Linked DNA regions of Homo sapiens. The protein of the gene in region 1 interacts with the protein of each later gene in a biochemical or structural test. Each region holds a gene or a part of one and is shown in the gene's direction. Other genes may lie near its edges.

Region 1 (8,302 bases):
AAAAAAAAAAAAAAAAAAAAAAAAAAAAAAAAAAAAAAAAGACTTGAAGGTGGTGATTGGCCAAGAAGAGGCCCATAGATTTTTGGCACTGGAGGTTCCTTGGAGGTTATCTGACCTCCATGCTCTTACCTATTCTTCATAAGGAAACAGAAATCTGGAGGTTAGAGAGGAAGTTGCCCAACCACAGAGACCAGGGGCAGAACCGCCCAGAATCCACAGCCTCCCAAGGTCGACTGACCGTGGCCCATGGCAGCCACTTGCCAGTCTCGTCGATGCTCTTTCTGTCAAGGAGGGGGAGAGCGCCTGTGTTTCATTTCCAAATGACTAGCCACAAAAGCCCTTTCTGGCGGAAATGCATCTGTTTGGCTGTTTATCATCTCTCAGTGGCGTCTGGAAGTCCCTGAGACAAAAGAAACACAGGCCGGCATGTTCTTTGTTTCCCAATGAAACCAACCAAAATGGATTTCTATTTTGATTCAGTTCCTGCGACCTTTACTAATGCAGCCAGTAGCTTGATTGGCAATGGCCCTCTTTTGTGGTGTTGCCAGGAATCTGTCTTTACACCATTGTTCTAACATTGGGTGGGTTGTCAGGTTTTGCTGGGAGCCCCTCAAGCCTCATGTGCACTAGAAATGAGCTCCCTGGGGAGGGCACTTGGTTTCTCAGGGTGCCTGCCTTGTGCAGGCCCAGGGCTGGTGCTGTCACAGGCATCCTCATAGCACCTCCGTGGGTAGAGGAGTTATCCCAGAACACCTGCCTGAGGATGGCATGTGGTCCTCAAAGGCACATTTACAATCTGCCTGAGCCAGGTCCTTGCGATGGGGCATGTGAAGATTATGGAGTATGTAGAGATTTGGGGCATGCAGAGATTCAGGGAGGGGCATGTTGTCAGGGACCCCTCCTTCTCTTTTTAGATAGCTGTGCGACCTGGGTGGGTATTTGTAGAGCCGTGGGGGAGGGGCTGGGCAATGCCCTGGCACTGGGGGTGGTGGGGAATTGATGCTGTCTTTGCCTGGCTCAGTGAGGGAGATCAGGGGCTCAGGGAGAATAATAGTTGCCTGAGGGTAATGAATACTTATCAGGACCTTGTCCCTGAGCTGTGTTTCAGAGCATCATAGTTAATGTGAAAATGTGGCAGACACAGGCCCTGTGTAGGGAGGTGGGCTGTAGGAACAGCCATGACTTGGGCTGGCTGCGGCAAATACCTCCAGGAAAGGGCTGGGGAGGAGAAGGCAGTGGTTCAGATTCATTCTGACTTCCAAGAAGAGGAGGAAGGAAGGAGAGGAGAGGAAACAGGGGAGGGGGAGGAGGGTAAAGAAGGACAGGGGAAGGAGGAAGAGAGGAAGAAGGGGAAGGAGGGGGAGGCAGAGGAGGAAGAAGAACTGGGCTGGGTCTCGGTGGCCTGATAGGTGACAGTCAGAGTAGGCTGAGGGGGGACCAGGCCAAGTGGTCCAGGTCTAGGGGTTCAGATTCAGACCTAGGGGTCCAGGTGGACCAGGCTGCAGGTGTGGGCACTGGCCAGGAGGGACAGGGTGGGGCTAGCCTGGCTCGTGCCCATTGGGATGGTGGGCGGAGCTCAGGAGACCCACCCAAGGGTGCTGAGAGAATCTGTTAGGGAGTGACGCCAGACCCAGGGGTGAGGACAGGAGCTGGATGTGGAGAGCAGCTAGGCGAACCTTCAGAGTCCAAGGCAGGGGCAGCTTTAGGGTGAAGGTGCACAGGCCGCCTTAGTCCTCGTGTGACTCCACGTGGTCCCTGGGGCTTGCACCCCTTGGTCACTTATGCCAGGGCTGTCTTTTCACCTGCAGGCAGGTGCAGTTGAGCAGGGTGGCAGAGGGAGGCCTTGGGAAAGTCGCTTTCTTTTGGGCCTCCATCGTCCCATCTCTAAACTGAGGGAGGTGGTGAAGGAGGCATGATGTTTTTCAGGCCCTTCCCAGGATCAATGCCGACCTGTACTCCAGAATCTGTTGCAGAGCCCAGGCTTGACATGGAGCTTGGAAGTGCCCACTGGGAGAGAAGGAAAGGAAGGTGGGGATCGGGGACCAGGGCTAAGTGGGGCCACTCCAGCCAGGAGCCCTCAGGGCAAGGAGGTGAGCCTTGGATGCAGCCCTGCTTGGCAGACCAAGGGTGGGAATTGGAGTGAGGGTGTCAGTGTGAGGCAATGGTGACATGCCACCTGGAGACAGCTCTGTGGGCAGGTGGCCTGGCTTTGAACCTTGACTCCCCTGCCTTGTCTAAGTGAGGAAGCAGCTGACCCACCCTGCCACAGGGTTTCAGTCTTTAAGTACCTGCCCTGTCTGGCTGTTGTAGGGCTTGGCGGGTTGGGCCACACTTAGAACAGGGCATTCAGGGAGCACTGGTCAGTACTGAGGGGGGTGGAGAGCCTGGCTGAAGGGAAAGAGAAATGGGGCAAGGGTCTGCCAGGTAGGTGCCACTGGTTCTGTTTCTGAATGGGGACATTGAGGCTCAGAGGGGCAAGTGAGTGAGTGTCAGGGTCAGGGGCAGAGCCGAGGTGAGCACCTAGAGCCTTCTGGCTCCTGCTTGCTGCTCTTCCATCCCCCATGCCCTTACTCCTTGGAGTGTGGTCCTCGGACCTGCAGAAGGGGCTTGCCTGGAGCTTGCAGAGATGAGTGCTTTGGCCTCCAAGCCTGCTGGACTGGAATCTACATTGCTTGAGGTCTTCAGGTGATGGCCTGCACATCTGAGTGGAGACACATTGCTTTCCATCTCTCAGTCTCAGCCTTGACCCCATGTCTGAATCACTTGGAGGTTTTAACAAACATGAATTATTGGTTTCACACCCCAGAGGCTCCCATGCAATAGGCCTGGGCTGTGGCCTGGGTGAGCCTATTGTGCAGTTGACTCTGCTGGGTCTGTCCTATCTCTGGTGGCTGCCCTGAAAGATGACAGTGCCCAGAGGAACTAGGGATAGAGCCCCCAAGCCTCAGGGCTTTCTGGGTGGGTTCATGAATGGTGGTCCCTACCAGCCTTATAGAAGAATGGCTTCACTTTTGAGTCTCTTATTACTTTTTGGTTCCTTCAAAGCACTTCAGGGTCTAGAGCTGTGCTACAAGAGAACCTGGGGTCAGCAGCTTGGGATACACAGAAGTGGGAGCTGCTGGTGTCCAGGAAGGAGGCTGTGGTAATGGGGGACAGTCTGATTGTGGAGGAAGAGGGGCAGGTGCTGCCAGCAGCCAGAGGGTCGTGGAGCAGCAGCTCATGGGTGGGACAAGCTGGAGGCTGGGGTCAGCAGTGGTGGGAATAGGAAGTTGGGGCCCGATGGAAGCTAACCTTGACAGAGATTTTGTAGGTGCACAATTATTAACCAATGGAAACACACAGAATCAGAATCACTCTTTTTTACAGATGGGGAGACAAAGGACCAGAAAGGTGAAGGGCCCTGCTTGGAGTCACACAGCAAATCAGGAACTAAACAGGATGAGGTCTCTGTCTTCTGGCTCCGTGCCAGTGGGGCATCTGGAGGGTGGCACGGTCAAGCTTCAGAAGGACACGGGCCTCCATTCCTGCAGAGATGGTATGGCTTCTCTTGAAGGGACGCCAGCTTCAGTCCTGGCTGATGCTTGCCCAGGATTCCATGATGTGAAGGTTCAGAGGGCCTATTTGGGTTAAGTGGGAGAGTACTGTGGCTGAAAACCCACTTCTGCCTTTCTATTAGACTTTAAATAAACTCTGAAGACCTGTACATCCTGCTCCAACCTTGCCCTGGGTCTACCTTTCCAAAGTCACTTCTTCTTTCCTTTACACCCACAATGGTGTGTACCCCACCCTTCCACACACAGTATACCCAGCTCCACTGTGCTCCTGCCTGTGCCCTGGACACCTCTGTTCCTCCTCTGTTCACGTTTTCTAATAGCTTCCTGATTTTTATCTACTTGTTCTGTAAATTATTGAGAGAGGAGTATTCTCCAATTATCTGCTGGGTGCGGTGGCTCATGCCTGTAATTCCAGCACTTTGGGAGGCCAAGGCGAGAGGATCACTGGAGCCTAGCCTGGGTAATATGAGATCTTGTCTCTACAAATAACAAAAAAAAAATTAGCTGAGTGTGGTGGCACATGCCTGTGGTCCCAGCTACTCAGGAGGCTGGGGTGGGAGGATTGCTCAAGCCCAGGCAGTGAAGGCTGCAGTGAGTCATGATCACACCACTGTACTCCAGCCTCGGTGACAGAGTGAGACTTTGTCTCAAAAGAAAAAAAAAAGAATTCTCCAATTATAATTGTGAAATTGTGGATTTGTCATTTTCTTTTTGTAGTTCTGTTTTTGCCTTGTGTGTTTTGATGCTGTTATTAGGTGCATACATATTTAGGATTGCTACATCATCTTGATGAATTGAGCCCTTTATTGTATTGAAAAGACCCTCTTTATCTCTAGTAATATTTTTTGCTCCAAAACATACTTTGTCTGATATTAATATAGCCACTCCATCTTTCTTTTGATTAGTGGTAGCAAGATGTGTCTTTTCCCACTCTTTTATTTTGAACCTATTTGAGTCTTTTCATTTAAAGTTGGATTCTTGTTGGCAGCCTACTGTTGGACCTTACTTTTTGTTCTTATTTGACAATCTTTGCTTCTTAGTTGAAGTGCTTAGACCATTTACTTTCAATCTGATTATTGATATGGTTAGATTTAAATCTACCATTGTACCATCAATTCTTTTCCTCTCTTTTCTCCTTTTCTGCCTTCTTTTGGACTTAGTATTTATTATTATTACTCCATTTCTTTTTCCTCTTGCCCTTCTCCTCCTCCTCCATCCTTGCTAATTGGGTGTAATTCTTTTTTTTGTTTTGTTACTCCAGTGGTTGGTTCAGGGTTTATGGTATACATCTTTAATTCATCAATCTGTCTTCAGGTGACATTACACTGATTCATGGATAGCCTAAGAACCTTCCATTTCTCTCCTCCTGAACTTTATGCCATTGCTGTCATATATTTTATTTAAATCAAAGTTATAAATCTCACAATACATGATTATTATTTTTTACAGAATTTAGACATTGAGAAAAATTCTATATATTTACTTGCATAGTTAAAATTTCTGATCTCCTCCATTCCTTTGCATAGGTCCATATTGGCTTCTGATAGGCTTTCCTAAACATTACTTATAGTTTGGGTGTGTGGGTGATATTTCCTTTCACCTTTTGTATGTTTGAAAAAGTTTTTATTATGCCTTAAAAAGCCAGCATTATTGAGATATAATTCACATGCCACACAATTCACCCATTTAAAGTATACATCAATATTTTTTAGTACATTCCTAGAATTTTGCAACCATCACTATACTCAATTATGGAACGTTGTTGTCACCACAAAAATAAACCCCCTACCCATTAGCAGTCACTCCCTATTTCCTCCAACCCCCTTAGCCTTAAGGAATCACTAATATGTTTTCTGTCTCTAGATTTGCTTGTTCTGCACATTTAGTGTAAATGGCATCATATAATATGTGAGATTTTGTGACTGGCTTCTCTCACAGCAGAATGTTTTTAAGGTTCATTCATATAGTGGTATGTTTTAGCACTTCACTCTTTTATGTACAAATAATATTCTATCACATGGGTATACCACATTCTAGCCATTCATCAGCTGATGGACATTATTTCATCTTTTGGCTATTATGAATAATGCTGTTATGAATCTTCATGTAAAAATCTGTGTGTGAACATGTGCGGTATAAATTTAGGAGTGGAACTGTGTAGTCATATGGTAACTCTACGTTTAACATTTTGAGAAACTGCTAGACTAGTTTCCAACGTGGCTGCTTCATTTTACATTCCAATCAGCAGTAGTATATAAAGGTTCCAATTTCTGCATGTCCTCACTGACACTTTTTTTTTTTTTTTCTGAGAGAGGGTCTCATTCTGTTGCCCAGTCTGGAGTGCAGTGGTGCAGTCATAGCTCACTGCAACCCCGGACTCCTCAAGCCATCCTCCCACTTCAACCTCCCAAATGTCTGGGGTTACAAGTGTGTGCTATCACGTCTGACTGCCTTTTTGATGATAGCCATTCTGGTGGGTGTGAGTGGTATGTGATTGTGGTTTGATTTGCATTTCCCTGATGGTTAATGATGTTGATTGTCTTTCATGTGCTTATTGATCATTTATATATATTTTTGTAGAAATGACTATTCATATCCTTTGCCCATTTTTAATTGCTTTATTTTTCCCTTTATTATGGAGTTGTAAGAATTCTTTATGTAACCTGGGTACAAGTCTTTTATCAGATATACAACTTGCATATATTTTCTTTCATTCAGTGGGTTGTCTTTTCACTCTCTTGATGCTATCCTTTGAAGTACAGAAGTTTTAAAATTTGACGTGTCTAATTTATCTATTTTTCTTTTGTTTCTTGGGTTTTTGGTGTCATGTATAAGAAGGCTTTTTCTCACACAAGGGCACAAAGATTTTCTCCTGTATTTTTCTAAAAGTTTTATTTATTTATTTTTTGAGACAGAGGCTTGCTTTGTTGCCCAGACTGGAGTGCAGTGGCGCAATCTCAGCTCACTGCAACCTCGGCCTCCCAGGTTCAAGCTATTCTTGTGCCTCAGCCTCCCGAATAGCTGGGTAATCTAAGAGTTTTATAATTTAGCTCTACATGTAGGTCTTTGATGCTTTTTTTTTTTTTTTTTGAGACAGAGTCTTGCCTTGTTGCCCAGGCTGGAGTGCAGTGGTATGATCTCCGCTCACTGCAAGCTCCGCCTCCTGGGTTCACGCCATTCTCCTGCCTCAGCCTCCCCAGTGGCTGGGACTACAGGTGCCCGCTACCTCGCCCGGCTAATTTTTTGTACTTTTAGTAGAGACGCGGTTTCAGTGTGTTAGCTAGGATGGTCTCGATCTCCTGACCTCGTGATCTGCCTGCCACGGCCTCCCAAAGTGCTGGGATTACAGGCGTGAGCCACGGCGCCCGGCCTGTGATCCATTTTGAGTTAATTTTCGTGTATGAGGTGAGAAGGGTCCGACTTTATTCTTTGGCAAGTGTATATCCAGTTGTCGCAGTACCATTTGTTGAAAAGAGTATTCTTTCTCTGGTGAATTGTCTTGGTACCTTTGTAGAAAATCAATTTATCATAAGTGTGAGGGTGTATTCCTGGACTCTGAATTCTATTCCACTGGTCTATTTATCTAACCTTATGCCAGTACCATGCTATCTTGATTACTGTTGCCATGTTGTAAGTTGTAAGATTGGGATGTGTGAGTCCTACAACTTTGTTCTTTTTTTTTTTTTTTTATTTTTGAGACGGAGTTTCATTCTTGTTGCCCAGGCTGGAGTGCAATGGCGCGATCTCGGCTCACCGCAACCTCCGCCTCCCGGGTTCAAGCGATTCTCCTGCCTCCTGCCTTGGGAAGCCTCTCCTGAGGCTTCCCAAGTAGCTGGGATTACAGGCATGCGCCACCACGCCCGGGTAATTTTGTATTTTTAGTAGAGACGGGGTTTCTCCATGTTGGTCAGGCTGGTCTCCAACTCCCGACCTCAGGTGATCCACCCGCCATGGCCTCCCAAAGTGCTGGGATTACAAGCGTGAGCCACCTCGCCTGGCCAACTTTGTTCTTTTTCATGATTGTTTTGGCTATTTTGTGTCCCTCGCTTTTCCATAGAAACTTTAGGATCAGCTCATCAATTACTGCAATGGGCCAGCTGCGATTTTGATAGGGATTGCATTGAGTTTGTATATCACTTTAGGTAGTACTGACATCTTAACAATTAAGTGTTCCAATGTGTTAACATAGGATGTCTTTCTATTTATGTAGATCTTTTAAAATTTCTTTCAACAGGCCTGGCATGGTGGTTCATGCCTGTAATCCCAGCACTTTGGGAGGCCGAGGCTGGTGGATCACCTGAGGTCAGGAGTTCGAGACCAGCCTGGCCTACGTGGTGAAACCCCGTCTCTACTAAAAATACAAAAAATTAGCTGGGCATGGTGGCAGGTGCCTGTAATCCCAACTACTCAGGAGGCTGAGTGAGGCATGAGAATCCCTTGAACCTGGGAGGCAGAGGTTCCAGTGAGCCGAAATGGTGCCACTGTACTCCAGCTTGGGTGACAGAGTGAGACTCTGTTTCCAAAAAAAAAAAAAAAAAAAAAAAATTCTTTCAACAGTGTTTTATACTTTTCGGAGTACAAGTTTTGTACTTTTTAATTATACTTATTACTAAGAATTTTATTATTTTTGATTGTATTGGAATTGGAATTGTTTTCTTTGTTTCCTTTTTGGATTATTCATTGCTAGTGCACAGAAATACAACTTATTTTTTTGTGTTAATTTTGTATCCTGCAACTTTGCTGAGTTA
Region 2 (4,936 bases), on another chromosome or scaffold:
ACTGCACTCCAGCCTGGGCAACAGAGCGAGACTCCATCTAAAAAAAAAAAGTACAATGAATAGCTGTGTGGAAAAGATGCATGGGGCAAGGCATGTAGGAGGGGGTTCAGAGCCTCCAGGCCCTCCCTGGGCTTGCCACCTTCCAGGTACCCCCATGTGTTCACAGCAGCTGGAAGCTTTTCAAATCCTGTCCTTTTAAAAAAAATTATTCATATATAATAGTTGTACATGTTTTGGGGTACACGTGATATTTTGATACCTATATACAATATGTAATGATCCAATCAGGGTGACTGGGGTGTTTATCACCTCAAACATTTATCTTTGTGTTGGGAACATTACAATTCTATTTTGAAATATACAATAAATTATGGTTAACTATAAATTTCCCTACTGTACTGTCGAATACAACAACTTATTCCTTCTATCTAAACTGCATTCTTTTGGGTTTCTATGGAGTCTTCATATGGAGGAATGATTGATGACCTCATTGGCCACTGGTGATCAATTCAACCTTCAGTCCCTGTCTCCTTCCAGAGGTAGGGAGTGGGGCTGAAAGTGCCAACCTCCAAGCACAAGTTTGGCTCCCCTGGCAACCAGCCCCCATCCAGGAGCCTCAGCCATCAGTCATCTCATTAGCATATAAAAAGACACCACTTGACAGCGTTTCCAAGGGTTCTAGAAGTCGTGTGCCAGGAAACCAGGGCAGAAACAGGATATATATCTCTTATTATGTCGCAGAGTCCAGTAAAATACTTTAGCTGGACCACTTATTATCCCTCTTAGTGAAACAAAAGTAGTAATTAACAGTTAATTTTACACAGCAGCTCTAATAAGCACTTGATAGTTTTGGTAAAATAATTTATTGGGTTTTTCCCCTATTATAAAAGTAATATATATAAAAGAAACCTTAGAAAGTTAGGCAAGAACATAAAAACCACCTGTATCCTACTTTGCTGAGATAACTATTACTCTTGTGCTATTTATCTTTCCTTCCAGACATTTTTTGCATACTTACATATAAATAGGACCTTGCAGTACTCATCACTTAACAAGAAGTCACGACAGATTTGTGCAGCCTGCTGGGGGAGTGGGTGGGGTAATGGTACGTGGCTTCTTCACCCTCAGCCCCTGGATTTTTCAGGTGGCTTCTCTTCCTGATCTCAAAGCCACACTCCAGCTAAGAAAAGTCTGGTGAAGACAGTGAAGAAGTTCGGAACTCAGCAAGGGTGGGGAAGAAGGTGCAGGATAGAGGTGGATGGAGTGGATTCCATGAACAGGTGGAGGTGCTGGAAGGGAAACAGTGCTGGCCTGGCCAGGTCTCCACAACTCTGCCTCCTTTGACAGGCATGGCCCTTTCGGTGTTGGTGCTCCTGCTTCTGGCTGTACTGTATGAAGGCATCAAGGTTGGCAAAGCCAAGCTGCTCAACCAGGTACTGGTGAACCTGCCAACCTCCATCAGCCAGCAGACCATCGCAGAGACAGACGGGGACTCTGCAGGCTCAGATTCATTCCCTGTTGGCAGAACCCACCACAGGTACAGGCAGTGGGTATGGGAAAGGGGCAGAAGCCTCACATTCACCCTGAGAGACAGGCTGGCCCAGACAGCATTAGCCCCACTTCACAGAGAGGACAGCGAGGCCCAGGGAAGGACCAGGACTTGCCAAAGTGGCTACACATAGCCAAGTGAACTAGAGCTCATGTCTCCTGATGCCCAGGCCAAAGCACTCTGTGAACAGCCAGCCACTTGAGAGGCTCAGAAGGCTTTCTTTAGGGAACAGTGATCTTCAGGTGCAGGCCCCTATCTAGCAAATGAGGTGGCCACCCACCCTCCCCCAAATCTCACCAGTTCCATGGGTCACTAGGCTCCCATATCCAGGAGGGGATCTGCAGCTGTCCTGAAGCAATGTATCCCACTTGGTGGGAGGAGGATGACAAGCTCTCCTCTCCTCCCTTCCCACTCGAATCAGGCAACCATTTAGGGTCCCTGTTCTGCCCTCTGTCCAGCCCCAGCCTCACCTGTGCTTAATAAGCCTGCCCGCTCCATCACTAGCCACCCTACATGGGTGTCTCAGATCTTCACAACTGCACTGCAAGGGAAGTATTCTCATTCCTGTTTTACTGATAAGGAATCTTACGTTCAGAGAGGTTAAGACATTTGTCTAGGCCACTTTTAGTTAGTGGCAGGTCTAGGAACTGATAATGTCACCTAAGACCATGCTTTTTCTTTCCATTGTCATACTGCCTCCCGAAGTAGATTCAGGGGGGAAATATGCCTTACTGATGATTTTCTCTTATTCCTTATCAGAAAGACAGATTATAGATACCCTCATTTTCCCCTTTGCCTAGGATGCCAGGAAGCTTGAAACCAAATGTAGTGAAGATATGTCTCTTTAAAAATAAATCTCGAGTTTTTTCTGGGGGCGGGGGTGGGAGGGGCAGAAAGAAATCACTCCTGGGTTAAGCATACAAGTTATAAATCAATCGGGTCACGTAACTCAACAGCTTTCTACTCCCTGATATCTACTCCCAGCTTCCTCATTACCAGCTCATTACCAGGATTAACTTGCTTCTCCTTTTTATCTAGGTGGTATTTGTGTCACTTTGGCCAGTCTCTAATCCATGTCATCCAGGTGGTCATCGGCTACTTCATCATGCTGGCCGTAATGTCCTACAACACCTGGATTTTCCTTGGTGTGGTCTTGGGCTCTGCTGTGGGCTACTACCTAGCTTACCCACTTCTCAGCACAGCTTAGCTGGTGAGGAACGTGCAGGCACTGAGGCTGGAGGGACATGGAGCCCCCTCTTCCAGACACTATACTTCCAACTGCCCTTTCTTCTGATGGCTATTCCTCCACCTTATTCCCAGCCCCTGGAAACTTTGAGCTGAAGCCAGCACTTGCTCCCTGGAGTTCGGAAGCCATTGCAGCAACCTTCCTTCTCAGCCAGCCTACGTAGGGCCCAGGCATGGTCTTGTGTCTTAAGACAGCTGCTGTGACCAAAGGGAGAATGGAGATAACAGGGGTGGCAGGGTTACTGAGCCCATGACAATGCTTCTCTGTGACTCAAACCAGGAATTTCCAAAGATTTCAAGCCAGGGAGAAGGGTTCTTGGTGATGCAGGGCATGGAACCTGGACACCCTCAGCTCTCCTGCTTTGTGCCTTATCTACAGGAGCATCGCCCATTGGACTTCCTGACCTCTTCTGTCTTTGAGGGACAGAGACCAAGCTAGATCCTTTTTCTCACCTTTCTGCCTTTGGAACACATGAAGATCATCTCGTCTATGGATCATGTTGACAAACTAAGTTTTTTTTATTTTTCCCATTGAACTCCTAGTTGGCAATTTTGCACATTCATACAAAAAAATTTTTAATGAAATGATTTCATTGATTCATGATGGATGGCAGAAACTGCTGAGACCTATTTCCCTTTCTTGGGGAGAGAATAAGTGACAGCTGATTAAAGGCAGAGACACAGGACTGCTTTCAGGCTCCTGGTTTATTCTCTGATAGACTGAGCTCCTTCCACCAGAAGGCACTGCCTGCAGGAAGAAGATGATCTGATGGCCGTGGGTGTCTGGGAAGCTCTTCGTGGCCTCAATGCCCTCCTTTATCCTCATCTTTCTTCTATGCAGAACAAAAAGCTGCATCTAATAATGTTCAATACTTAATATTCTCTATTTATTACTTACTGCTTACTCGTAATGATCTAGTGGGGAAACATGATTCATTCACTTAAAATACTGATTAAGCCATGGGCAGGTACTGACTGAAGATGCAATCCAACCAAAGCCATTACATTTTTTGAGTTAGATGGGACTCTCTGGATAGTTGAACCTCTTCACTTTATAAAAAAGGAAAGAGAGAAAATCACTGCTGTATACTAAATACCTCACAGATTAGATGAAAAGATGGTTGTAAGCTTTGGGAATTAAAAACAAACAAATACATTTTAGTAAATATATATTTTTAAATAGTCTATGACTGTTCTGTTCTCCTAATTCCAACAGAAAGCACATGAACCCTTGTAACAACTGCAGGGGCTGAGTGGGGCTAATAGAACTGGTAGTACTCTTTATAAGCCTGTCTGAGGACAGAGTCCATCCATCTGCTACAAAGACAACTCTGCTCAGGGAAACCCAGCCCTGAAATGCTGCACCCAGGTAGACACCCCAGAATGCCAACTGAGGCAAGTCAAGTCATTCTTCATTCATGTAACAAGTATTAATTGAGTACATGCTATAAGAAAAGTAACTGTCACACGGACTTTAAGCACCTGTGTTGGCACAATTACTCAGCATCTTCTCTCCCTGCGGGCAGAAGCAAATATAATAGCCACTAGTTAATTTACAATAAGAAATAACTGCCCTAGAAAGTAGACTATGTCACACCTTTAGGACTGATCAGGGCATTCCCCCATGTTTGCAGGGAACTGGAAAGCTGCCTGGTGTCTCAAGAAGCCTGTTTCTAAAAGCATCACCGCCCCTTCCCCCAACCAGTGACAGTCAGGCTGTGCTGGCCAAGAGCCCAGGCTCTGGAATCAGATGGCCAGGATTTGAATTCTTGTGCTGAGGCTTCCTAGATATGTAACTTTGGGCAAATTACTTTACCTCTCTAAGTCTCAGTTTTCTCCTCTATAAAATGGTGATAACACTGTCTTCTGCAGTGGTTGCTGGAGATAAGCCAGTCTGTGAAAGTGCCAAACAGCACCGCCTTTTGTTAAGCAACAAAGAAATAATTAGTTCTCACTGCCTCCCAGGTCCGCACACGGGAGACATATCCAAAGCCTGCAAGGATGATGCCAGGCCAGATGAAGTGGAATTTTGGGTCCTATCTTTTAAAACATTTAAAATCAAGAAACATTTTTTATTAAAATTAATTATTCTGTTTTTTTAAAGACTGATTGCATAATCTTTGGAAGATCCTGGAATCAAGA

What was found. The genes of interacting proteins can lie anywhere in the genome.
Region 2: the proteins of RAMP3 (region 1) and SLC31A2 form a complex in vitro, tested with the Homo sapiens proteins (one study listed by BioGRID).

What each region holds. Positions count from the first base shown.
Region 1 is NC_000007.14:45,160,332-45,168,633, forward strand, and holds part of RAMP3 (receptor activity-modifying protein 3 precursor), read left to right. Parts: intron 1-1,926; coding exon of another isoform or gene 1,927-2,090; intron 2,091-3,366; coding exon of another isoform or gene 3,367-3,535; intron 3,536-8,302. UniProt on the Homo sapiens protein: Accessory protein that interacts with and modulates the function of G-protein coupled receptors including calcitonin gene-related peptide type 1 receptor (CALCRL), calcitonin receptor (CALCR) and G-protein coupled estrogen receptor 1 (GPER1).
Region 2 is NC_000009.12:113,160,162-113,165,097, forward strand, and holds the end of SLC31A2 (protein SLC31A2), read left to right. Parts: intron 1-844; exon of another isoform or gene 845-1,347; coding exon 1,348-1,537; exon of another isoform or gene 1,538-2,587; coding exon 2,588-2,756; 3' UTR 2,757-3,979; downstream 3,980-4,936. UniProt on the Homo sapiens protein: Does not function as a copper(1+) importer in vivo. However, in vitro functions as a low-affinity copper(1+) importer.